4 linked regions of the Homo sapiens genome follow. The protein of the gene in region 3 purifies or fractionates together with the protein of the main gene of each other region. This does not show direct contact. Each region holds a gene or a part of one and is shown on either strand. Other genes may lie near its edges.

The links.
Region 1: the proteins of RCCD1 (region 3) and SPAG9 purify together in Homo sapiens (affinity purification with mass spectrometry; 4 studies listed by BioGRID and IntAct, with this or other methods). This does not show direct contact.
Region 2: the proteins of RCCD1 (region 3) and RAB3GAP1 purify together in Homo sapiens (affinity purification with mass spectrometry; 2 studies listed by BioGRID and IntAct, with this or other methods). This does not show direct contact.
Region 4: the proteins of RCCD1 (region 3) and TSC22D3 purify together in Homo sapiens (affinity purification with mass spectrometry; 2 studies listed by BioGRID and IntAct, with this or other methods). This does not show direct contact.

What each region holds. Positions count from the first base shown.
Region 1 is NC_000017.11:50,963,848-50,970,885, reverse strand, and holds part of SPAG9 (C-Jun-amino-terminal kinase-interacting protein 4), read left to right. Parts: intron 1-29; coding exon 30-179; intron 180-4,498; coding exon 4,499-4,614; 3' UTR 4,615-7,038. UniProt on the Homo sapiens protein: The JNK-interacting protein (JIP) group of scaffold proteins selectively mediates JNK signaling by aggregating specific components of the MAPK cascade to form a functional JNK signaling module.
Region 2 is NC_000002.12:135,160,263-135,167,300, reverse strand, and holds part of RAB3GAP1 (rab3 GTPase-activating protein catalytic subunit), read right to left. Parts: intron 4,747-7,038; coding exon 4,650-4,746; intron 4,554-4,649; coding exon 4,450-4,553; intron 4,316-4,449; coding exon 4,200-4,315; intron 2,708-4,199; coding exon 2,605-2,707; intron 1-2,604. UniProt on the Homo sapiens protein: Catalytic subunit of the Rab3 GTPase-activating (Rab3GAP) complex composed of RAB3GAP1 and RAB3GAP2, which has GTPase-activating protein (GAP) activity towards various Rab3 subfamily members (RAB3A, RAB3B, RAB3C and RAB3D), RAB5A and RAB43, and guanine nucleotide exchange factor (GEF) activity towards RAB18.
Region 3 is NC_000015.10:90,957,855-90,963,634, reverse strand, and holds the end of RCCD1 (RCC1 domain-containing protein 1), read right to left. Parts: intron 3,736-5,780; coding exon 3,637-3,735; intron 3,308-3,636; coding exon 3,137-3,307; intron 2,611-3,136; coding exon 2,581-2,610; intron 2,018-2,580; coding exon 1,866-2,017; 3' UTR 510-1,865; downstream 1-509. UniProt on the Homo sapiens protein: Plays a role in transcriptional repression of satellite repeats, possibly by regulating H3K36 methylation levels in centromeric regions together with KDM8.
Region 4 is NC_000023.11:107,712,692-107,716,796, forward strand, and holds the end of TSC22D3 (TSC22 domain family protein 3), read right to left. Parts: coding exon of another isoform or gene 3,999-4,105; intron 3,818-3,998; exon of another isoform or gene 3,624-3,817; intron 3,260-3,623; coding exon 3,208-3,259; intron 2,059-3,207; coding exon 1,828-2,058; 3' UTR 530-1,827; downstream 1-529. UniProt on the Homo sapiens protein: Protects T-cells from IL2 deprivation-induced apoptosis through the inhibition of FOXO3A transcriptional activity that leads to the down-regulation of the pro-apoptotic factor BCL2L11.

The sequences.
Region 1 (7,038 bases), on a different chromosome or scaffold from region 3:
ATATTCACTTTTGTTTCTGTATAAAACAGGTCAAGTCATCAGCCCACAAAGTAGCAGTAGTGGCACGGATCTGACGGGTGACAAAGCAGGGCCATCTGCACAGGAGCCTGGTAGTCAGACGCCCTTGAAGTCTATGCTTGTCATCAGTGGAGGAGAGGGCTACATCGACTTCCGAATGGGTATGTCATTGGTTCTGGGTGCTCAGTTTGCACTGTGTGCTATGACTTGGGTTTTGTCCCAAAGTAAATAAGAAACCACTCTGATAATGATTTATAAGAGGTTCTCTTTGAGCTCTTTACACACGAAAGGATTTTGTGGGTTTTTGTTTTTTGTTTTTTTCTTTTTGGTATTTCTTTCTTTTTTTTTTTTTTTTGAGATGACGTCTCACTCTGTCACCCAGGCTGGAGTGCAGTGGCATGATCTCAGCTCACTGCAATCTCTGCCTCCAGGTTCAAGTGATTCTCCTGCTTCAGCCCCCCAGGTAGCTAGAATTACAGACATGCACCACCACATCTGGCTAGTTTCTGTATTTTCAGTAGAGACAAGGTTTCACCATGTTGGCCAGGCTATTCTCAAACTCCTGACCTCAAGTGATCCGCCTGCCTCGGCCTTCCAGCTGGGATTACAAGCCCGAGCCACCGCACCCGGCCCTTGGTATTTCTTTTCATACCAAAATGTATTTGTTTGAAAGGAGCATTAGAAATAGCAGGATGTGGTCAATGTGAAGTTTTATGTGAAAAGCATAGGATTTAGGGTCAGAAGGCCTTGGACAAGTCATTCAACCTCTTAGAGCCTCGGTTTTCTGTCAAAATGGAGAAATAAAAATATTTCTTAAACAACTTCATTTGTTCATTTTCTCACCTAACAAACATTAATTGAGCACCTACTGTGTACCTGTCATTCTTAAACTGGAGATACAGAAACAAATCAGACAAAGCCTTCGTCTAATAGATTATAGAACAGTGCAGAGATAGAGACATGTTAATAAATTAAAATGTTACTGATGCTCTGGTAGTGAGTAGTCAGTTCTTTCCAAGGGTAGGGAGAGAAGGAAGTCAAGAAATGATGCTTGAGGTGACTCAGCACTGCATAGTCTTAGCACAAAGGGTCAGGTTGGGGAATGGGGTGGGGAGGACCAGGGGTTGGCACTCCGAGGTAAGAGAATAGCTTGGCCAAAGGTTTAGAGATATGAAACCATTTTAATGGAAGAAAAACTATTTTAAAATGACAAGAGTGTGGAGTAGAAGAAAGTATGAATTTGTTGTCAAAAGGGAGGGAGGGACTGGAGTATGGGAGGCCTTTACATACCAGATTAAGAAGATTGTACTTTATCTTTCAAGCAAAAGAGAACTATAGGAGCAATGTGATTAGAGTTGTGTGAAGGATGGACTGGAGGTTCAAGACTAGACCTAGGGAAATGAGTTGGGAACAAGTGAATGCCCAAGAAAGGTAGTAACAGTGTGAACAGATAAGAAGCATGATGAGAATGTGGGGAAGGAGAGAATGGGCCATAGAGCTCAGGACTGTCAACAGGAGAAGCAGGTCTGGAGGGACGGAAAGAGGAGTCCAGTGCTGATCATGTTGATCTTGAAGAGCATAGTGGTGATTTAGGTGGGAAATTTCCACTGGGCTTCTGAATATACAGGTCCTCTATCTTAGGAGGGAGGGATTTGGGGGCTGTCAGCATGGAGTGGTACTAAAAGCCATGAGGGTTGGTGAGTTCGCCCAAGGAGCTAAAAGAAAAGGTTCCAGTGGCTAAACCCAGTCTCTAATAAAAATACAAAAATTAGCTGAGCGTGATGCCGTGTACCTGTAATCCCAGCTATTCAGGAGGCTGAGGCAGGAGAATCACTTGAACCCGGGAGGTGGAGGTTGCAGTGAGCCGAGATCACACCACTGCACTCCAGCCTGGGTGACAGAGTGAGACTCCATCTCAAAAAAAGAAAAGAAAGAAAAAGGAAAGGTTCCAGGATAGAACCCTGAATTCATACTCCATTTAAAGATCATTAGAGCTTATGGAGGGATCTGAGAAGGAATGGCCAGAGAGGTACAAAGAAAACATGGAGAACTGATGCTCGTGAAAGAGTAGTGCTTTGTAAATTGTAAGACACTGTACAAATATGTTTATTTATTTGCTATAATTTTTCTTTTTTGAGACAGAGTCTCACACTCTGTCACCCAGGCTGGAGTGCAGTGGCACAATCTTGGCTCACTGCAACCTCCACCTCCCGGTTTCAAGCAATTCTCATGCCTCAGCCTCCCGAGTAGCTGGGATTTCAGGCATGTGCCACCACGCCTGGTTAATTTTTGTATTTTTAGTAGAGACGGGGTTTCACCATGTTGGCCAGGCTGGTCTCGAACTCCTGGCCTCAAACAGTCCACCTGCCTCAGCCTCCCAAAGTGCTGGGATTACAGGCATGAGGCACCGCACCCAGCTTATTTGCTATAAATAAACTGATCCCTTGGACTCGCTTAAAATCTCAGTGCTTCAAAAAGTTCCCAGACATAAGGCAGTAGGCAGTTTGAGAGAATATAATAGTGTTGTAGATCAGTAACAAATACTTTAGATATGAATTCTGTAAAGGAATAAAAAAAAATTAGGGTCATTTAAATGACAATGTGACAAATGTGATTAGTGTCACCAATATCTGATGCAAAAAGTTTGTTGACACTTTTAAGAGGGGAAGGCTGTTAGTGTGAACTTTAGAAATTGATTCCAGGGATGTCAGCAGGAATGGAGTCATTTCAAAGTGTTTTGAATAATTGACTATTGTTGAATTCCCTTTTATGAGAGGAGTTGTTAGGGACTCCACTTGGCTGGGGTGATTTTTGTAACTTTGTGTTGGAGTGCAGTATGTCAGTTGGAACCGTACTGAGGAGTTTGTTAATAAAATCTCTATGTGGTTTTTCCATTTCCACTAAAAATTCCTTCCATTGTGGATCCTGAAAATAGAACAAAAATTGCTTAACCAGGTTTGGCAGTATCTCTAGTTATTTCCAGCCTGAAAAACAGACTTGTCTTTAGCATAGGCTAATTTTAATAGTGAATATACTGTTGTAAAAAATCAAATTTGATCTTTTTTGGGGGTCCATTTCCTTTTTCATTTCCTGTAATATTTTAACAGTGAGAAATTGATTCTAAAGTCCCATATTTTTAATGATTTAAACTTAAAACTTAGGCTGTAGAGACCCTAGCAGACAGGATAATTTTCTTACAAGTAAAATCTTCAGAACAACTCAGAAGAGAAATGGCGACAGCCTTTTGTCTCAGCCAGTTAATTTTTTTCATTGAAATTTTTTAAAATTTAAGAGCCAAACTTAATTTTTTTACCTTCTAACCACCTGGGTATGTTTCAGTTCAGAGATGGGAGTTTGAACTGAGTGTTCTCCTCTCTCTAGTTTGATATTGCTGTGAAAAGGCCATTACAGGGCTGGGTAAGGGAAAGTTTGGCCTGCAGAGAAAAATGCAGATATTTAGGGTTTTTTCTCTTCTGTTGTTTCTAGTCAACAGTATCAATATTTTCTTTTGTCCAGCTGAAATTCACATGGGGCACATTACAAAATTCTGTTAGATCAGTGGAATATATCTTTAGGTCCTGTGGTGTGTATGTTTTTAGGATTCTGCTGAAGAATCCATCCCACTAGACAACTTTTCACTGGGTTGTGCCAAAATAACCCTGCTCTGTGACAACAGATACAATTGATGCAAGCTTGTATCGAGAATTATGGTATGCCCTGCACTGGGTCTTATGGAGAGGAGTGTGGTGTACCCCAGACTGGGCCTTGGAAGCCAGTGTCTGATCAGGACACCATGGATCACATTCACTTAGCCGTGATGCAGAAGAACCTGTATCTTGGCTGCTACCCCAACCTCTTTGTTTCTCCTTTTCCATTATACACTGTTAATTTGTAACCTATCCTAAACTTGAAAATCATTGGAAGAAAAACCCAGTAGCTGGTGAATCTGCCATCTGCAGTGCTGCAGGCTAATTATTTTAATTTCCATATGCTTGTGTCAATTATCTTCAATTGGAGAACATTACACCTGTCATTGATAATTGTGAGTTATTTGGGTTTAGTTAGTTTGCTCTGTACCTGTGCTCACGCATTTTATAACACTATTCTCAGTTCTTAGTTTAAAATAAGTGACAGTAGACTCTTCATTTTGGATGAACACAGAATTGCCTTCTTAGCTTCCCATGTCTGGACCATCGGTATGCAGACATGTTGGGGTGGCTTTTTAACGTAGTATAGTGAACTGGATTTTATAAATACAGTCTGAAAAATGAATTAACCTTTTCTGAAGTCAAGCAGTGGCTTGGGTGAATATGGGTGAGGATTCTGACTCTTAGTATTTCTTCTACTATTTACTCTCCAGTGAAAGTCAGACAAGTTTTGGGCATCTTGTTCATGGACTAACCACGAGCATTACATCTGACTCACATCATTCTATATTTTATGTGTTCAGCCTAACTTGAGTCTTCTTATCATTCACTAGGTGATGAAGGTGGAGAATCAGAACTTCTTGGAGAGGATCTTCCACTTGAACCTTCTGTCACCAAAGCAGAAAGGAGTCACTTGATAGTGTGGCAAGTGATGTATGGCAATGAGTGAGCCCATGGGAAACAGGTGGAGATGGGGAAGCCGTCTCTTCTGCATGGTTTATTTTCCCTCTATCCTTTTATTTAATGCTCTTTTGTGAGATAAGTTTCACCACATAATGTGTGAGCATTTTTTCCTGTTAACTTTATATTACAAAATCCGTTCTACCATAACAATACAGAGGAACTAGCTGTGTTACTGCACCAGTGTTATAGGTAACTTCAGTATATTATGAACAAATCAAAGAATGTTTACTTCCTGCAAACTGGTGAATTATAGAAAGCAATCCAGATGTGGTTTACTCTGCCACAGTCTAATGTCATTCACTTCATTTGATGGGGTCACTTGTTAGCTGTCACTAATAATGGAATTAATGGGAAACACTTGATAAATGAAACTGTACCGTTAAATACAATAGCTGAGTTTTCCCCAGTGTATTGTAAAATTGACACACACTAATACAAGATGGATTATCAGGATGTATCTAAATGTCCCGAGAGGGTTAAAAGCTAACTGTAAATTACTTTAACTTTCACTTTCAAATCTGACAAATCTTGTTTATATGGTATATAAAACTTTGTTTTCATCAGATTTGGGGGGGTTTTATATTAAAGAAATTAAGACTACACTATTTAAATAAACGTTTCCTGTTTCTGACTTATTAGAGCTCTAAAGTTTATGAGGCCTACTTCTCTGAATATTCTGATGGGTTTTTTTTGAGACCAGTCTCATTTTCATACTGACATGTCTGAAAGATTTATTATTTATAAAGCTTAGGACATACTCTGGGAAGCTTAGAAGATACTTCAGCACTGGGAGGATTTTTTAAAGGAAATGTGTTTTGTATTTCTTGTACCAGAGAATGGTGATGTTGATTGAGTTTTTTCCATGTAAAAAATGTACTTGTTTGCCAAATGTTCCTAGATTGCTCTTAACCTGTTAATACAAGTAAAACTGTAGTGGGGATGGAGTCTGGCCTAAGTACAGAATGAGGGATTTAATTAGAAAAGTTATTTTCTTTTGTTCTGTATCAAACTGCAGAACAGCTATATACTTGGTATTTTGTACGTGAATAACGTTTTAGCTTTTGTGCCCTTTTGAGCTTGAAGGGTTATCCTCAAAGGGGAAAACTATGAAGGGGAAGAAGACAAACCTAAGATACCATAAAGTAAAGGTTGACATTACATATTTTCATTCACAATGCCCATTAAAAAAAAAAAATAGGTTGGGCATGGTGGCTCACGCCTGTAATCCCAACACTTTAGGAGGCTGAGGCAGATGGATTGCTTGAGCCCAGGAGTTCAAGACCAGCCTGGGCAACATGGCGAAACCCTGTCTCTACCAAAAAAAAAAAACAAAATAAATTAACCGGGTGTGGTGGCACATGCCTGTAGTCCCAGCTACTTGGGAGGCTGAGGTGGGAGGATGACCTGGGCCCAGGAGGTGGAGGTTGCAGTGAGCCTTGATAGCACCACTGCACTCCAGCCTGGGTGACGGAGCAAGACCCTGTCTCAAAACAGACAAACAAGCAAAAAATAGATTAAAGTCTGGATTTCACTGATTTTCTTGCTTAATAAGTTTTTTAAAACCACGATGCTGCAATTTTTTCCCTCTCAAGCTTCTTGAAAATGTGTGATTTACCCTTTTTTATCTATTACTCTAGGCAAAGCTAAATATGATTTTTTTTTTTTTTTTTGAGACGGAGTCTGGCTCTGTTGCCCAGGCTGGAATGCAGTGGTGCGATCTCAGCTCACTGCAACCTCCACCTCTCAGGTTCAAGTAGTTCTCCTGCCTCAGCCTCCCAAGTAGCTGGGATTACAGGTGTGTGCCACCCTGCCCAGCTAATTTTTGTATTTTTAGTAGAGACAGGGTTTCACCACATTGGCCAGGCTGGTCTCAAACTCCTGACCTCAGATGATCTACCCGCCTTGGCCTCCCGAAGTGCTTGAATTACAGGCGTGAGCCCCCGCGCCGGTCCGAAGCAAAGCTAAATGTAATTTTATGTACTGTTTTAACAGTATAAACCTATGGGATAAAGGCCCCCAATCATCAGAAGGACTACTGAAAAGAAAAGAAAGCAAACGTAGATGTCAAATTGTCTAAACATTCTTAAGTACCACTGATTTTTTTTTTCTGGACTATTATACAAAGATGTCTGTAAAAAGTATACCAGTGGCTTTTATGCATATACACGATTAGGCTAGATTGTGAAGTACATGGGATTTCATGAGCCAGAGGAGGCATTTGGATCCATTGGGCCACATGTGACTATAAGCACATTGTGTACACAATAAAATTGTAGCCACTCATGTATTAAAACTGTTTTGGTAAAAGCTGTATTAAAAGAATAATTTTTTGCTTGAGCTACTTAGTCACTTTTTTGCAGGGCACCAAAATGTAGGCTACTTTTCCATAGCTTGTTTGCTATGTTTTTAT
Region 2 (7,038 bases), on a different chromosome or scaffold from region 3:
GTCAGTCATTTATTTGCTGAATTCCATTTAAGTATGTACATACCAGAGATACCTATAATCATGATAAGGCTTATTACTATTTATAATTTTAAAGAAAAGTTATAAATATATAGAATTACTATAAGCTATAAAAACACCAAGTGAAATTACATCACAACTTTTTAAAAAAATGTGTTAAAATCTTGACTAATTAGTAAAATTGATATAAAGTATCAGCTAATGAAAAGTTACATGAATAAATTCTAACAGTTTACTTCAGCCAGACATTTAAAACTGAGTTTAAAAATGTACCAACCAGATGCTTGTTATATGTATTACACAGTCTACCAATTCCCTAAAAACATTCACTACAAGGTCTGAAAACTTTAAAATCTTTTCTTAAATGACATAATGTAGATGGATGTACAATTTCAGTAGCCATTAAGGGGGTTAGCTATACAATGAGGCTACTGAAAGATGATATACTATGTTCCTGTATTTAGTGATTTTGAAAGATATCTTAAGTATATTAAGTGGAAAACAAGAATAATGAAGTAATTATATAATATAACCCTACTTTTAAAATTATATATACATATGTATATACTAGATGTTAAATCATCAATGGGTAGTGAGATTATGTGATTAATATTTTCTTATAATTTTCTAGGCCAGGTGTGATAGCTCACACACACCTATAATCTCAGCACTTTGGGAGGTTAAGGAAGGAGAATTGCTTGAAACCAGGAGTTCTAGATAAGCCTGGGCAACAAAGTGAGACCCCGTCCCTACAAAAAATATAAAAATTAACTGGGCGTGGTGGTGCATGCCTGTGGCTCCAGCTTCTTGGGAGGTTGAAGCAAGAGGATTGCTTAAACCTAGGAGTTCAAGGCTGCAGTGAGTTATGATCTTGCCACTGTACTCCAGCCTGGACCACAGAGTGAGACCCTCTCTTTAAAAAATGAATAAATAAATATAAAAGTTCCTATATTGTCAAAGTTTTACTTGCAGTCAGTAGAGGGGGTAAGGAGGTTATTTCTATTTTGGGGAAAATAATTTTGCTTAGTTATCTAAAATAAGTAACAATCTCAGGACTAAAAATATAAATACTTCACATTTTAAATCCTCTTAACACATAACTTTTTTTTTTTTTTTGAGATGGAGTTTTATCACCCAGGCCGGAGTGCAGTGGCATGATCTCAGCTCACTGTAACCTCTGCCTCTCGGGTTCAAGTGATTCTCCTGCCTCAGCCTCCCAAGTAGCTGAGATTACAGGTGCTCACCACCACGCCCAGCTAATTTTTGTATTTTTAGTAGAGAAAGGGTTTCACCACATTGGCCAGGCTGGTCTTGAACTCCTGACCTCAGGTGATCCACCCACCTCAGCCTCCCAAAGTTACAGGCGTGAGCCACCGCACCCAGCCAACATGTCACTTATTAAAAATGATCAAAGAGGAAAGAATTTTTGCAATATGAGGAACATTCATATTGGTAGCTAACAAGGAAATGCGCTTGTAAGCTTCTGGGTAGTGAACTGGATAGATATTATCAGATGTGGAACCAAACTCGGTTCTTGTTTTCATGCCAGAGAGAAAAACAAAATAAATCAAAGCAAGCATCTATTGTTTGCTAGAAGTCTAATTTATAAGGAAATAAATATTTGGTTATTAATTTGAAATTCTGAGGTTTAGGGAGCTGCCCCATAAACAAACTCAGATTTTAGCTCTTGCTAAGAATTCCTATCAGTGTATTTGGCTATGAATTTGAATATATTAACTAGTTGTACTCCAGACCAACTCTACAGGGATTATCCAGTTGTTATTCCACGTGTAGACACATAGAAATTCTTTTTCTTATTTGTTTCTGAAAATTACACTCTCAAAACTGGGTCATTCTAGTGTAATCACAGTGCCATATAAGGGGAAGCGTGTAATTAGTGCACATAACGCCTTTATCAGAATCCCTAATATTAATGAGCCCTGAACTGAGAATTATCTGTAGGATGCCAGAGCCCTTAGCCAGTAACCAAGATACAATATAATTTTAAAATCTTTACTTTCACTACTAGAGGTAATGGTTATGATAATTTTTCAAACTGGGCTTTCTTTCTGTGCTGAAATCTGTTTCCACAGCCCTAAAAATCTGAAGTTTTCCTCTTCTTTTCTAGGAAACCTCAAAGGTAGATCTCCTCACCATTACAAGAACAATTATATTTATAATTCAAGCTGAGTTGTGACTCCACTTTGCCCTACATGGGGTTTAAAGATGGTAAAACTGAACTCCATTCTCATTTGAAAGTACCTGTGAGTAAACATTTTTTCCCACAGCACAGCACTGGCCATTGCTAACTGACTCCCTGCCAGCTTCTATAACAATGGATTTTGGACTCTTCTAATTTTTAAAATTTAGGTCCTAGAATATACTTATCATTTTAATTCAACATGTAAGAAATCAAATGGATTTCGAAGACTCAGAAGTCATTGTTTCTTCAGTGTTCAAACCCAATGCCCAGACTTACACTCAGGTGACATGAGTGTGATCAGCCACGTGTGGGAACTAAAACAGCCTCTTCCCAAGTAGAGGTTTGGAGAGATTATGATGGAGTCAATAATGACTCTCACATACCCTCTGGGCATTCACAAACAGCTTGTGAATGATCCTGCCAGCATGTCCTCTTCCTGCACCGGTGACTAACACTTCAGGCTGCTCCAGCAGGCAACTCACAAACCTAGGAGACAGAGACAGGCAATGAAAGGGTGGAAAGTGAGCTGTCCAGGCCACTGGGCGTCCATCCTCCCACAGGAGTTTTGTGGACAAATCCTCAAGCTGATACTGGCTAAACCCAACAAGGTTGGAGTGAAATTTTACAGCAAGATAAGATTGACATTTGGAATTATTATCGACTTAACTGACAATCTTCCTGCTTTTTCACCTGTGCTCATAAAAAATGTTTAAAGCCTATCTCTGTCAAAGTGTAAGAAAAAATATTCAGTCTATTTTTTTCAGACTAGAAGCTTAGAAAATGCTACAGTTAATAAAAGATGAAAAAAAAATTGTATAATATAAACCAAGTTATATTTATCCAATAAAAGCAATGATCCATATTTGTTTTTGTTTTTTTTAAGGGGTATGTGTCTGTGTGTGCACGCACACGTGCACATATGCTTAAAATACTTGTGTTGGGCAAAGTCGCAATTGTAAACTGTGCCATTAGATGCTGGAAACACTGAACTTCCAAGTATGTCACAGATAACGTATGGTGGAACTAACAGAGTTGAAGGCACAAAGCCACCAAACCTGCACCACCTGCTCACTAATTCATACTCTACTATTTTAGAAACGAGTCCCTTGATTAGAGCTTATTCTTCTCATTTAAAAGGAAGACATTTTCAAGAGCAAAGCAGTGTGGGAGAAAACTTCACCTAACAAAAGACATAAAATTCAAACACAAACTTGTTAAAAGACAGCAAATGCCTTGCCATACAATATTAATTATTTAGCATCAATAATGCCATTTATTATGGAAAGGCTAATGAAAATTTTTAAATGATGACAAATTTAAGCCACTGAACAAGCTAATTTGTGAACACTTTATCACACATTAAAACAATATTGTCCTTCCAAATAACATGGGCAAAAAATGAACAGGGCCTCACACTGATCTAAGCTCCATTGGTAATGGTGCCGAGTCTCATAAAGAGAATGCCCCAATCATTTGCTTCATCTGAGAAAAGCCATCTGGTCAATCTTTCAAAACATAATCGCAAGGCACATAGGATGTGCACCTTTGCTATCACAAATCTTGTTTAAAATAAACAACTAGGAACAGTAAGCAGAAATGGTTTCAGCACCTGCACCCTGTGGTCAAGGAATAGTAACAGCTGAAAACAAAGTTTTGGGGCAGGGTGAGCAACACAGTTAACAGCTCCTCCACAAGAAATTCCAGACACCACATCTCCAAGAGCAAACCAAGGAATCCCTAGAAAAGGAGGCTCTGGGAGACTGTTTCTAAAAGTGGGAAGAATGGAAACACCTGGTAGAGACTCAGAAATACGGGAGAGGTCAAATGCTATGATAATTATTTCTGTCTCTAGACAATGCTTGTTTCAAATAATATATGATTACCACAAAAGAGTCTTAATATCCTATTACAATTTTTCTTAAGAGAGTGGTGGCTTTTCCTACTGCAGACAAAACTGAATTAGCCAAATAGCAATTACCTTTCAAGATCTTCCTTTTCCTCCTCCTGTTCACATTTCTCAGTTCCAAACTTGGCTTTTAGTGACCGAGCTCTGGCAATGAGAGCTTCCACATTAGTAATCTGGTGAATGATTTCCTGGCGGTAGAAAAGGAAGAGGCATACATTGCGAGATGGCAAAAAAGCAAAGCCCTTTGAAAACGCATCTTAAAAATTATTTTTGCCAACTGAGGAGAACACTTGGCAAGATTCTGACACTACATCAAACTTACTTCCAATTTCTTGTCTTCTGGATTGGGGAAGTGCAAAACTTTACTGGAATGGGATATTATCTGCTTTATGATCTTCTTAACTGAAGAAATGTTTTCGAGACTTTCTATTTTAGAAAAGATTGAAGCCAGCATTAAATAAATTAAGCAAAATATACTTTCACTTTGGAAATGACTAATGACTAGTTAAATATGACATTTACCTTCTTCCTTTACCTTGAGTACAGCTGCATGAATCACACAAGGTAACAGGTGCCGAGCAAGGTCTGCAGGTTTCTGGATTGCCAGATAGTGCAGCACCTGAAGGAGGTGCAGCGCACACAAATGATCAGCGCAGGTGTCAAAGGATGAAGCAGCCACTTACAGAAGTGCAAATCCTCAGCCACTCATCTTAATCCTTAACAAGACAGCACTCCAGATAGGCAGCCACGACCCCAAAGGTGAGGATAATGTTACTGAAAGCACCTAAGAACTTCAATCTTTAATAATTATAAATATTCTATTTTTTTCTGCTTTCTTATGTAATACACACAAATAAGGAAAATACAAAGAAAATAAAAACTACCGACTGATTACAATACCAAGAGAAAACAACCATTGACAGTGGAGCATTTTCATTTTAAGACGCAGAATACACGTACTAAGGGCACTAATATTAAATATGTAAAATACTGCCTTTTAACCTGCTTTTCTCACTTAATATTTCTAAACATTGTTAGTGACTTCCCACACATTTTTTGGTTTTAGTTGTTTTGGTTTATTTTTTTTCCAATTCTTATTATAAGAATACAGAGAAGTATGTACAAAACATGGACCCTACCTTTAGGCTCCTTATTCAACAGTAAAGATAAAAGAAGTATAACCCTATAAATATGTACAATTCTTTTACATCAATAAAAATTTTAAGAAGTATAATCTCATAATGTGAGTCTGACTGATAAATGCTCATGGATTTCAAAATTTTAAAAAAAATACAGGTGATGCAGAAATTTTCCTGAAATCCTACTTCCCCAAAACCACATTTTCGTGTTTATCCTCTCAAACTACTTGTATGTCCATTTAAACACAAAAATGTAGATGCATATGTAATTTCTTAACAAAAATTAATAACTTACATACTGTTTTATTATTTGCTTTATTTAATGACTTGTGGTGGACTTTTTTTTGGCTTAGAGAGTTTTGTCTGATTTGAAACTTTTTTTAAATTAAGAAATATACATACTAGAGTATTAGAAATAGTTTAAAGAAAACACCAGCTTAGGAAACAGAATGTTACCAGGCTTTTCCAAGTCCTCCTGTGTACCCTCCATCCCCAGAATTAACTACAAATCATTCTTTTGCTTTTCTTTATGGTTTTTTTCACATATGTAGCCTTAAATAATATATTGTTTACTTTTGTCTAGTTTTAACCTTTATATTAATGGAGTGTTTCTGTTTATAGCCCTCAGTGACTTGCTTTTTTTCATTCAGTATTTTGATATTCGTATACCATTCCAATATGCTATAGTTTACTCATTTTCACTGCTGTATTAAAATGTTCCTACACTAATAGTAGTGGATAGCTCCTCAGTTTTTGGCTATTACAAATGATGCTCCTATTACATTATTGCACATATTTCCTGGTGCAAATGGGACATGTACAGCAATTACTTTAGGATATATACCTAACAATTGAACTAGGAAATGTACAACATAATTATCCTACAAAGTGTTTCAACAGATTTACATTCTTATCTAGAGTAATGAGTTCCCTCTGTTGTACATCCTTGCTAATACCCACCTTTCTGAATTTTGTTTTCCCCTGATTCACAGAAAAACAAATTTGCAGGAATAACGTGAAATATGTGATTCCCCTTTACCTGGATTCACGTATGACCTGTCTCCCTCCTCTGTTCTGGATCCCTTGCATCTTTCTCTGCTTTCATGTGTGTACATACTATAGACATAAACTTGTTTCGAATAATTTCAGAATAAGTCGCACACTCATGTCCCTTATCCCAAAATATCTGTATTTCCTAAAATTAAAAATATTTTATTATATAATCAAAATGCAAATGATTCTGATTATATACAATAAATTTAACACTGATAAAAATAATTGTAATCTAACCTACTATCTTTATTGCAGTTTTGTCAACTGATCCCATATGTGTCTTTTTTTTTTTTTTTTTTTTTTTTTTGAGACAGGGTCTTTCTCTGTTGGCCCAGACTGGAGTGCAGTGGTGCGATCTTGGCTCCCCACAACCTCCGCCTCCCAGGCTCAAGCGATTCTCCTGCCTCAGCCTCCTGAGTAGCTAAGACTACAGGCACATGGCCACTACTGCCCGGCCAATTTTTGTATTTTTAGTAAAGACGGAGTTTCACTATGTTGGCCAGGCTGGTCTCGAACTCCTGACCTCAAATTATCCACCTACCTCAACCTCCCAAAGTGCTGAGATTACAGGCATGAGCCACCGCGCCCGGCCGCAAAATGTGTCTTTTATGACCCTTTCCCTCAACCACTACAAGTCTTGGTAAGGATCATCCATTGCCTTTAGTTATCATAGCTCTTTAATCTCAACTAATCTGCAACAGCTTTTCACTCTGTCTTTT
Region 3 (5,780 bases):
GGCAGTTCCTCAAAAAAATTTAGAATTACCACACAATCCAGCAATTCCACTCTGGGTATATATCCAAAAGAACTGAAAGCAGAGACTCAAGAGAGTTGTACACCCATGTTCCCAGCAACATTATTGACTGTAGTGAACAACTCAGATATCCACCAATGCACGGATGAATAAAACGCAGTGTATACATACAACAGAATCTTAGCCTTTAAAAGGCAGGAAGTCTAGATACATAAGCTACATCATGGATGAACTTGGAGGACATGCTGCTAAGTGAGATAAGCCAGTCATAAAAAGACAAATACTATGGGATTTCACTTACATGAGGCACTTACAGTATCATAGGAACAGAAGGTTAGGACTGTGGTTGCCTGGGGCTGGGGAAGGGGAGACTGACGAGTTAAGTGTTTAATGCACAGAGTTTCAGCATAGAATGATGAAAAAGTTCTGGAAATGCATAGGGGTGACGGTTGCACAACAGTGAATGCATATAATGTCACTGAACTATGTACTTAAAATGGTTAAAAACAATTTTTGTTTTTTATTGAACATAAATTTTATGTTCAGTATATTTTACCACAATAAAAAAGACCCCATGGGTGGGAAACATTTGCTAAACCACAGACACACACATGCACAAATAGAATTTAACTATAAAGAAAACTACTGATAAGCTTATTTTATCAAAATAAGTTGATACTTGTAAAGCACTTTGAGCCTTACCTGGCATGGAGTAAGCATCACCTAAGTATTAAAATTGGTAATACCAAGAGAGACTGAAACAAACTACATTGTAGCAGAAGATACTCTGAATACTAACTCTCAAAAGACTTGTATCTGAAATATCCAAAAGAAAAATCACTAAGGAAAATACAGAACATTTTAAAAGGCCAGAAAACTTGAACAGGCACTTGACAACAGAAAAACTCCAAGTGGCCAATAAACATATGAACTCTTCGCCTCAAGCAATCTCCCTGCTTAGCCTCCCAAAGTGCTGGGACTACAGGTGTGAGCCACCATGCCCAGCCATCCAAAACAAATGAAAAGCTACTCAACCTCATCAGTATCCAGGGAAATGCCAATTAAAACCAGTGTGCATCTACCTGACATTTTAGCCACAGTAGACCCCACCCTGCTGGGGGCAACAGTTATCTAGTAAAATTAAAGGTATCTCCTGACTTAGCAATTCAACTCAATGTTCTGCAAAGGAACTTGTGCACATGTGCAGAAGACTGCACAAAGAATTATGTGGAATGACCAAAATCAGAAACAATAAAAATGACCATCAACAAGGCTGTATCACTTGAGGTATTATTCATACAACAGAACACCATATAGCATTAAAAATGAACTCCAGGACCCAACAAGGATGGATTATACAATGCTGAGTGACAAAAACGACACAAAAGCACATACACAGGATTCCATTTATCTAACACTCAAAAGCAAACACAACTATGTCGTATAAGGCTGCATACAAGAATGGTAAAATTCAAACGAAAGCAGGGAAATGACTGACAGAAGACGATGACCTGGAATGTGCCCCAATCTCAGCTGCACATCAAATGTACCTGGGATGAGGTGGGTGGAGCTTTGAATCTACCACTATCCAGGCCACACACCTAGAAGCTCTGGTTTCATTGTTTCATTGATTTCATTGTTTTGATTGATGCTGACCTTAGGCAGCAGAGTTTTCAATGCTCTCCAGGTGTTTCTAAAGTGCAGACAAGTTTAGGACCGTGCTTGAGGGTGAAGGGCAGGACTGTGATGGGGAGGGGCAAATATGGGGCCCTTGGGGTGCAGGCAATGGTTTTCCTTGACCTGAATGGGGGTCTCACAGGTGTTGCATATACATATACGTACACATGTCAGCTCTTCCCTTTCTCCACAGCATACACGTAGGTGTTCCACGGCCCACAGGTGACAGCCTTTACTTGGAGTTGCTTATCTACAAAGTATTCCACACGGCGAGGCCGATCCAAGCTGGTGGTGTCCTCGTGGCCCAGCTGTCCATATTTACCTAAAGTGAAATCAGCCCCTTTGCCATCGTCTCCACTGGGTCTTGCTGCTGCTTTCCCTCCAGGAAGGGGCCCAGACTATCAAATGAAGTGCTGGGATTATGCCCCACTGCTCTGTGAATCCAAGAGACCCAGAGCCAGGCAACCTTGGGGATCCCCAAGAGGCTAGTGGCGACCAGCCACTCCAGGCAAGACGCTCCTCCAGACTTCCCTGCTATCCAAGCTAAGATGTTCAGAGCACACACTTCCATCGAATCTTTTTCTCCACCCAGTGTCACATCCACAAAAAGCTGCTTTGTAAGTGCTGGTTGGATACTCCCTTAAGACAGTCTTTCAGAGAGGTAGGCGGGTGGTACCGATATCCTCTCCATGTCTCCCCTGTCTGGCCTCGGACTGAGCGCGCCTATGTCTGTTCCAACCCCAGGGAGGGAGCAGTCCTGTTCCTCCCAGTGACCTGGCCGAGGCCCCTGCTTCCTCCAGTCTTGTTGGCTTTGTCACCTGCCCTGTACTCCCAGGTCTTTCTTCTCCTTGGTTTCAGGGTCACAAAAACAATCCTTTTACTTACCCCAGCCCCAGGTGTAGAGCTCCCCTGTTCCTGAAAGCAAAAGGACAATCGATAGTTGTCACTACGGTTCTTTGGCAAGGCATCTGTCCAGCCCAGCTTGGCACAGCCCACAGCTAGCATATTACAATCCTCATGAGATCTGCCTGGCATGGAACAACATATTCTCTTAACAACTGGCTGATCACACGTGGCATGGCAGAGGATCCCGAGGGAAAAAGTGGCGGATCTTCCTGTGTGCCATGCTACCGAGCGCCGCAGTCTTCCATGCCAGACTGGACAGTCCCTGCTGTCAGAGGCGGCGGCGGGCAGGGAATGTGTCTGTGGCCGTGCAGGGAGGACAGAAAGCATCAGCCTCCCACCAGAAGGAAGAAACTTCTGGGCCTGACAGGCTGGGGAACTACTGTGAAACAACAAGGGGGTTGGGGCTTATCCACTGAGCAAGGTAGCTGCTCTGTATGAGCCACAGAAGCCTTAAGACAGAAGTTTTTCCGTCGACCACACCCCCTTCCGTAGGCACCAGCTCGAGTGGAGCAGAGTGCCTCCCAGCCCCACTCACGTGTCACCACAGCTGTGTGCCGGGATCCACAGCTGGCCTTGACTGCATCTGAGCCCATGGGGAGATCCAGTAATGCCGGGAAGGGCTGGACAGCTATGAAGGGGGCAGGGGCTCCATCCTCAGCCCCACCCGTTCTCTTCACCTGAGAACCATCTTCATTCAGTTCTGTGGCTTCAGAATGATAATAATGATGTGAACACCAACTGAGCCCTGAGCTAAATCTTATTCATGCAGTCACTTATTGCCACAACAGCTCTGAGGTACACGACTGCCTAGCTCCAAAGCTGGTGCTCCCAACCCCTACATTCTGCAGGCAGGGCTGGCACTGCTGCACAAGTGTGTTGTGCCAAGACCGGCATCAGCCTTGCCAATGCTCCCTCCCATAAGGGGCTCACATGCTCCATCTGAGCAGTGTAGCTCTGAGGCCAGCATACAGCCAGGAGTTAGGAATGACAGCCACATCCTGGGGAGACGGCTGTGGGAGCCGAGATGACCCTCACCTTCCCTTGCGACAGTCTCTCCATCCTCTGCCAGGTTCCTGGTGGGCAGGGCCAGCTGCCCTGATTCATTCCAGCCCCAGATATAAATATCCCCAGTCTCTGAAAGAGATCAAGGGGACACATGAAACAGACTGTGAAGCCCCTGCATCCATCCAAACTCTCCTCCCCATCGCATCCGCTCCTGGGGACAACTAAAGCCTGCCCTGCCCAAGGTAGCACTCCAGGCCAAGGCGCTTCCCCTCGGGCCCCAGGGGCTTGTCTTAGGTTCACATCCCCTCAATGCCTTCAGATCACCCTTTAAGTCCCTTACTGGACCTTCTACTTCCATTCTTATGCTGCCAAATAGCCCCTCATTTCAGAAATGTATCCCTAGAAGTACCGCAGTGGTCTCCCTTTCAAAACCACTGGGCCAGGGCCAGGTGCATTGGTTCATGCCTGTAACCCAGCACTTTGGGAGGCTGAGATGGGTAGATCACTTGAGCTCAAAAGTTCGAGACTAGCCTCAGCAATATGGCAAAATCCCTGTCTCTAAATAAGTAAATAAAACAACCACTGGGCCGGCCTGTGCCCCTTTTTCAACTGCACCCACAGCCGGTCCTGATGAAAGCCACGTGCAGCTCTCCCCTTCCTGGCCTCCCACAACACTGGAGCTTTTTGGTTGGAACAGCTGCCTAATTCTAAAAATTTCTAACAATAGCTGCTTTATGAAGTGCTTAATCCATGCTGATGTTTCACATGCTTTTCAAATATAATCACTTAATTCTCACAATAGCCCTACAGGTGGTTTTATGACAATATCACCATTTACGCAGGATCCCTATTTTATTCACAACTGAGGCACAGAGGGGGTTAAGTACCAGGCCCGAGGTCCCAGGGCCCGAGCAATGATCTGAAACTAGGAAGTCTGGTGGGATGTGTCCGTGCTTCAGCCTCTACACTAAACTTAAGGCCTCAAACTCCTTCTGGACCTTGAGTGCAGGGCGTCCCACTGGGCTGTTTCCAGCCCTCTGGTCTCTCCAGCCCAAGGTTGGGGTTTTTTTTTTTTGTTTTTTTTTTTTTTTTAGACAGACAGAGTCTCACTCTGTCACTCAGACTGGAGTGCAGTGGTGTGATCTTGGCTCACTGCAACCTCCACTCACGCGTGGCTCAAGTGATCCTCCAGCCTCAGCCTCCCGAGTAGCTGGGACCACAGGCACGAGCCGCCACGCCCAGCTCATTTTTATATTTTTTGTACAAAGACGAGGTTTTGCCACGTTGGCGAGGCTCAGCCCAGGGTTTCCTGAGCTTGGCAACCAGCCCAGGCCCATTCCATGAGAATATGGTGTGGAGGAAGGCACTGGTAGCTTTTCTTTTTTTTTTTTTTTTTTTTTTGAGACTGAGTCTCGCTCTGTCGCCCAGGCTGGAGTGCAGTGGCACGATCTCGGCTCACTGCAACCTCTGCTTCTCAGGTTCAAACGATTCTCCTGCCTCAGCCTCCCGAGTAGCCAGGACTACAGGCGCACACCACTGCACCCAGCTAATTTTTGTATTTTTTTTTAGAGACGGGGTTTCACCATGTTGGTCAGGCTGATCTCGAACTCCTGACCTCGTGATCCACTCACCTCGGCCTCCCAAAGTGCTGGGATTACAGGCATGAGCCACTACGCCCGGCCCCCTGGCATTGGTAATTTTTTAAGCTTCCAGGTGATCTACGTAGCAGCCAGAATGAGAGCCCCAGACACAGACAAAGATCATCTGTTCCCAGCCTCACCCTCTCTGCATGGGCTCTAACAGCCTAGGAAGGAGCTACACCTGGATCACCAAGTGAAACTCCTCACTCTGGCCAGCTGTGGCACCACCACAGGGACACACTCATCACCATCCTGGTGCCTGGTGGGCACCCCAGTGTCCACCCTGTGCCACACATCATGGCCCCCTAGGCAACTGCAGCGTTTCTGCGTTTTCCTTGGCTCAGCTGCCCCCTCACACTCCATACTCCCTCGGCAGCACTGTTAAGAGACAGTCCTGGCTGGGAGCAGGTGGGGAGAGGAGGGGAGGGGCAGTGAGACCAGTAACAGAGAAGCTAGGAACAAATGCCAGAGTCCAGGCGTGAGTGGGCCATGGTGCAGGCAGAGGAGGCCGAGGGTGAGAGGCATTTAGGAGTC
Region 4 (4,105 bases), on a different chromosome or scaffold from region 3:
GTCACATGTGGATTGGTATTAAGGAGAATGCATTAAGTGAGCCCAGTGATGTTTTCAGAAGACAGAAGAGGCCCACGCCTGTTGATTTGGTTCCGCTCTTCTCGCTCCCTCCTATGTATACCCTGCCTGTTTCTTTTGGGCCTTCCTCGGGGTATCTTTCCTCCCAAATCACCCCCTCAAGCTACAGTTGTGTGTTATGAGTCACCTTGCCACTCACTCCGAAGCTCTCATATGAAAGCGGAGCAGGAGAGGGAGGAAGGATCTGGGCTTGAGTCCTAATTCCCGTAATAGCCATGTGACTTTGGGCAAGTCACTTAAACTCGCTGAGTCTCAGTTTCTTTATCCAGACAGTGAGGGCAAACAGCATGTCCTTCATATGAGTATTGTGCAGATGACACGAGATCACGGCTGCAGCATAGGCCTGGCACTGACAGGGTGCTCAAGGGATATTCAGGGGGTCAGCAAAACAGCCCCTACTGGGTGAGGGGCCTCTCCCACCCAGTCCATTTATACTCAGTCAGACACCAAGTTTATTTTTAGAAAAACAGAGCAAAGTTTATTGAAATTTCAAGCTACATTTGGAAAATCAAAATCCAAATCCTGGAACCATACATCAGGATAAGGTGTCAAAAAGTGGAAAGTGTTCACTCTCACAAAACCCGCTACAGACAAGCTTTCTGGGCACACCTCCCAGGCTCCATTGGATCAAAGCCATCCCCTTGTTCATCCCTCATCCACAGTAGGACACCATCCTTCTGTTCACTTGAAAGTTTTCCACAATAATTACAAAACAAAACAAAAAACGTTTTCAAATGACACTGTGAAGCCCAAACTGATCTTCTCTCAACCCCATTCTATGTAGTCAGCACCAGTGAATGGTGGGTTTGGCATTCAAAACAGGACTTCACGTTTCAGTGGACAGCTGGGGAAAGGGTTGCAGCAGCAAGGCATCCGTGGCCGCATTCAGAGGCTGGCCCCCCTCCTTGCCTTTACTCTCGAGTCTTACTTAACCTAAAAGACAAACTGGGTCAACTTGGTAAATGAACACAGTCAAAGACTTAGCCATAAGAGGTAAGGGACCAGTCAATACTCCCAAGGCTGGTTAGGCCCTTCAACATGTAGGTGGATGTGTATATGTATACATCGCTACACTAAGATACAGATCTAGCCCTATGGGTATATATACGCATTTATGGCTATATAGAAAAACTATGCCAATACTAACCAAACAGAACTTTGTAAGCGGTCATCCCAAAGCTGTAATCCCACACTGGGCTGTGCACAAAGCCATGCATTATACCATATTAACCAACAGAAGGCTGACTTGGCTCAATCTCTCCCATCTGTGTCCCCTGCCTTCACGAAACAGAGGAGAAGAGAGAGGTTGCCTCTGCTTAAAACACAAGTGGCTTCTTCATAGGAACAGTCGTTGTCAGGTGAAGCTGTTGAAGATGTCCATGGAGATGAGAAACAGACCCCTTAAACTTTCTGGAGCAAACTGGTGTCACACCTCAAACTACCCTTCTCCTTTGCCAGTTGCAGCTAAGTTGCCCAGGCCCTGGGAGCCCCCAGGGCGCAGTAGCATTAGAGGCTCACTGGCTTGGTGTTACTAGGCCCCATGCAACTCAGCCTCCAGAGACCTGCTCTTGTCAGGGGTCTGTCGCTGGAGTGGACCCAGGTGGCCATGTCCTTAGGACATCTCTTGGCACCAGCTGTGCTAGGTGTAAAGTTCTCCTCGTGAGATGATGCTTGGGGAGCCAAAAACAAACTGGAAAGAACTAGGTAAAACAAGTTTAGTGGCTCTGCCCACCCTGAGGACAGAGCCACTTACACCGCAGAACCACCAGGGGCCTCGGGCACTTGTGGGGATTCGGGAGCTGGCTCTTCAGGGCTCAGACAGGACTGGAACTTCTCCAGCTGCTCTGGGCTTGCCAGGGTCTTCAACAGGGTGTTCTCACGCTCTAGCTGGGAGTTCTTCTCCACCAGCTCTCGGATCTGCTCCTTCAGGATCTCCACCTCCTCTCTCACAGCATACATCAGATGATTCTTCACCAGATCCTGCCAATGAGGGAATCATAACAAAGCCATTCCTTAGCCATCGTGGCCCCTCTGCAGCACCTTTGCTCTGTCATTGGTGTGCCTGTGCTGTCCTTAATGCCAGGGCCCTCCAGCCTTCCCTCAGTGAACTGGTCTGGCAAGTCCAATTCCTCGTTCACCTTTCTCTGAAGCACTTAAACCCTCATTCAGGAGAGCTACATGATTTGGCTTATGCTGGAGTTGAGAGCCCAGCTTTGAACTAGATAGGTTCTCCCCTGCAAGTTTCTAATGACTTTCAAAGCTGGCTGCTGAGGGGCCTTTGGGGTGACACTTCTGCTGTTTGCCAGTGGTTTGCTATGTCCCCCTTTTTACATAAGCCCCTACTGCTGCCGATCCAGATCTGGGGGAAGGGTAGACCTGCAATGCATCCCATACTGTTTGTCTGCTGTACAAATCTTAACCAAGAGAATAAAATTGGCTATTTTAGAGTCTCCTCCCCTCCATATGACCCAGCACATTGAATTGCAGCTGTCCTGCAGCCGGCCAGTTAGCACACAGGACATTGGCCTTGGGGAAAGGTACAGAACTGCCGCATCCTCTCTGAATTTGATGACTGCACTGGGGGCAGGGAAGGTGTCCTTAAGCTCCAGGGCACAATTAAGTGGCTCCCAACCGCTGAAGCCCTAACCCTCTGCAGCCATTGTGGCTGCTCCTTGGAGTATGACCTCTACCTGGTAAGGAGAGGGACAGGGGTGGGGTGCTTCGCTTCCTGTTTCCACCCAACTCCTGACCCCAGTCCAGGCTCTGCAGAGGCACTGCAGTGCTGTTGCATCCAATGAGCTCAGCCCCTTGCCAGCTGCACGATGCACACAAATGCAAGAGTCTGAGCTCCCTGCCCAACAACAGGCCCAGGAGAGAGTCAGAGCCTGCGGCAAAGACCTGAGATGGAGGAGGGAGGAAGAAAGGAGGGAGCCCAGGAAGGGAAGACTGGAAATGCCCTAAAAGGTGCCACTCTAATCAGACTCCACCTCCAGTGCGGATAGGAGGCAGGCTGTCGGCTTCCTCAGGGTTTTGGCTAAGGGCTTTTTCACCCATTCCCTCAATCCTGCCCAGAGTTACATAAGCAGCAGCTAAGTCAGGGGATGAGAATGACGCAGTGATGCCACTCACCATGGCCTGTTCGATCTTGTTGTCTATGGCCACCACGCTGGCTCCGGAGGCACTGCCAAGACAAAAAGCAAAGCGACCCATTACCCACTCGGTTCTACTCTTGAGTACATGGCAGTTGTGGCCAAAGTCCTCCATCTGCCTCGGCTCTTCCTCTCTCTCTCCTTCTCGCCTCCCTGGCCCAGAGTTCCGGACAGTTTGTCCCCAGATCCTTCCTTGGCCCCTGCAGGAAGCTGCATCTCCTCATCCAGGCCGGCTCAGCGCTGCTGCCGCCGCCCCGAGTTCCAACCGATCGGAGCTGCTTGCGAGTCCTGGGGCGCGCAGGCCACCGTGGCCTGCTCGGGCAATATGCAAACAATGGGGCTGTGCGACCCGGGGAGTCCCCCACAGCCGGCCTACAAGGTCCCAGGCAAACCTACCCGGCTCTGAAGCTAGCTAGGAATTCCTTCTCGGCTGGTAAGCTTCCGGCCTTCTCCCAAGCGGCGCACGGCGCTCGGCCAGCCCCCTGCCCAGCCCTGTCTGGTCCTGCCCGCCGCCCCTCTGCCTCCGGCTGCCTCTGCGGCTGCAGCAGCTGGTTTTCACGGCGCAGCGGCCGCAGGGACGCTTCGATGACGGATCCCAGAGCGGCGGTGACCCCCCCCTTCCTGCGTCCCCTCCCCCCCGCCCCTTCCCAGGATGCTGCACCGCGGGGAACAGGGACCGGCGGCACACAGCTCGCTCAGAGACCGGGCTCCTAGCCCAGCTCCGGCCGGCGCCCCGGCTCGGGAGGCGCCGGAGCTGGGGCCAGCGGTTACCTGTTGTCCAGCTTAACGGAAACCACATCCCCTCCAAGCAGAGAAGAGAAGAAGGAGATGGAGAAATTGTGCAGCTGGTAGACCGCCACCTCCATGGGGGTCTGATA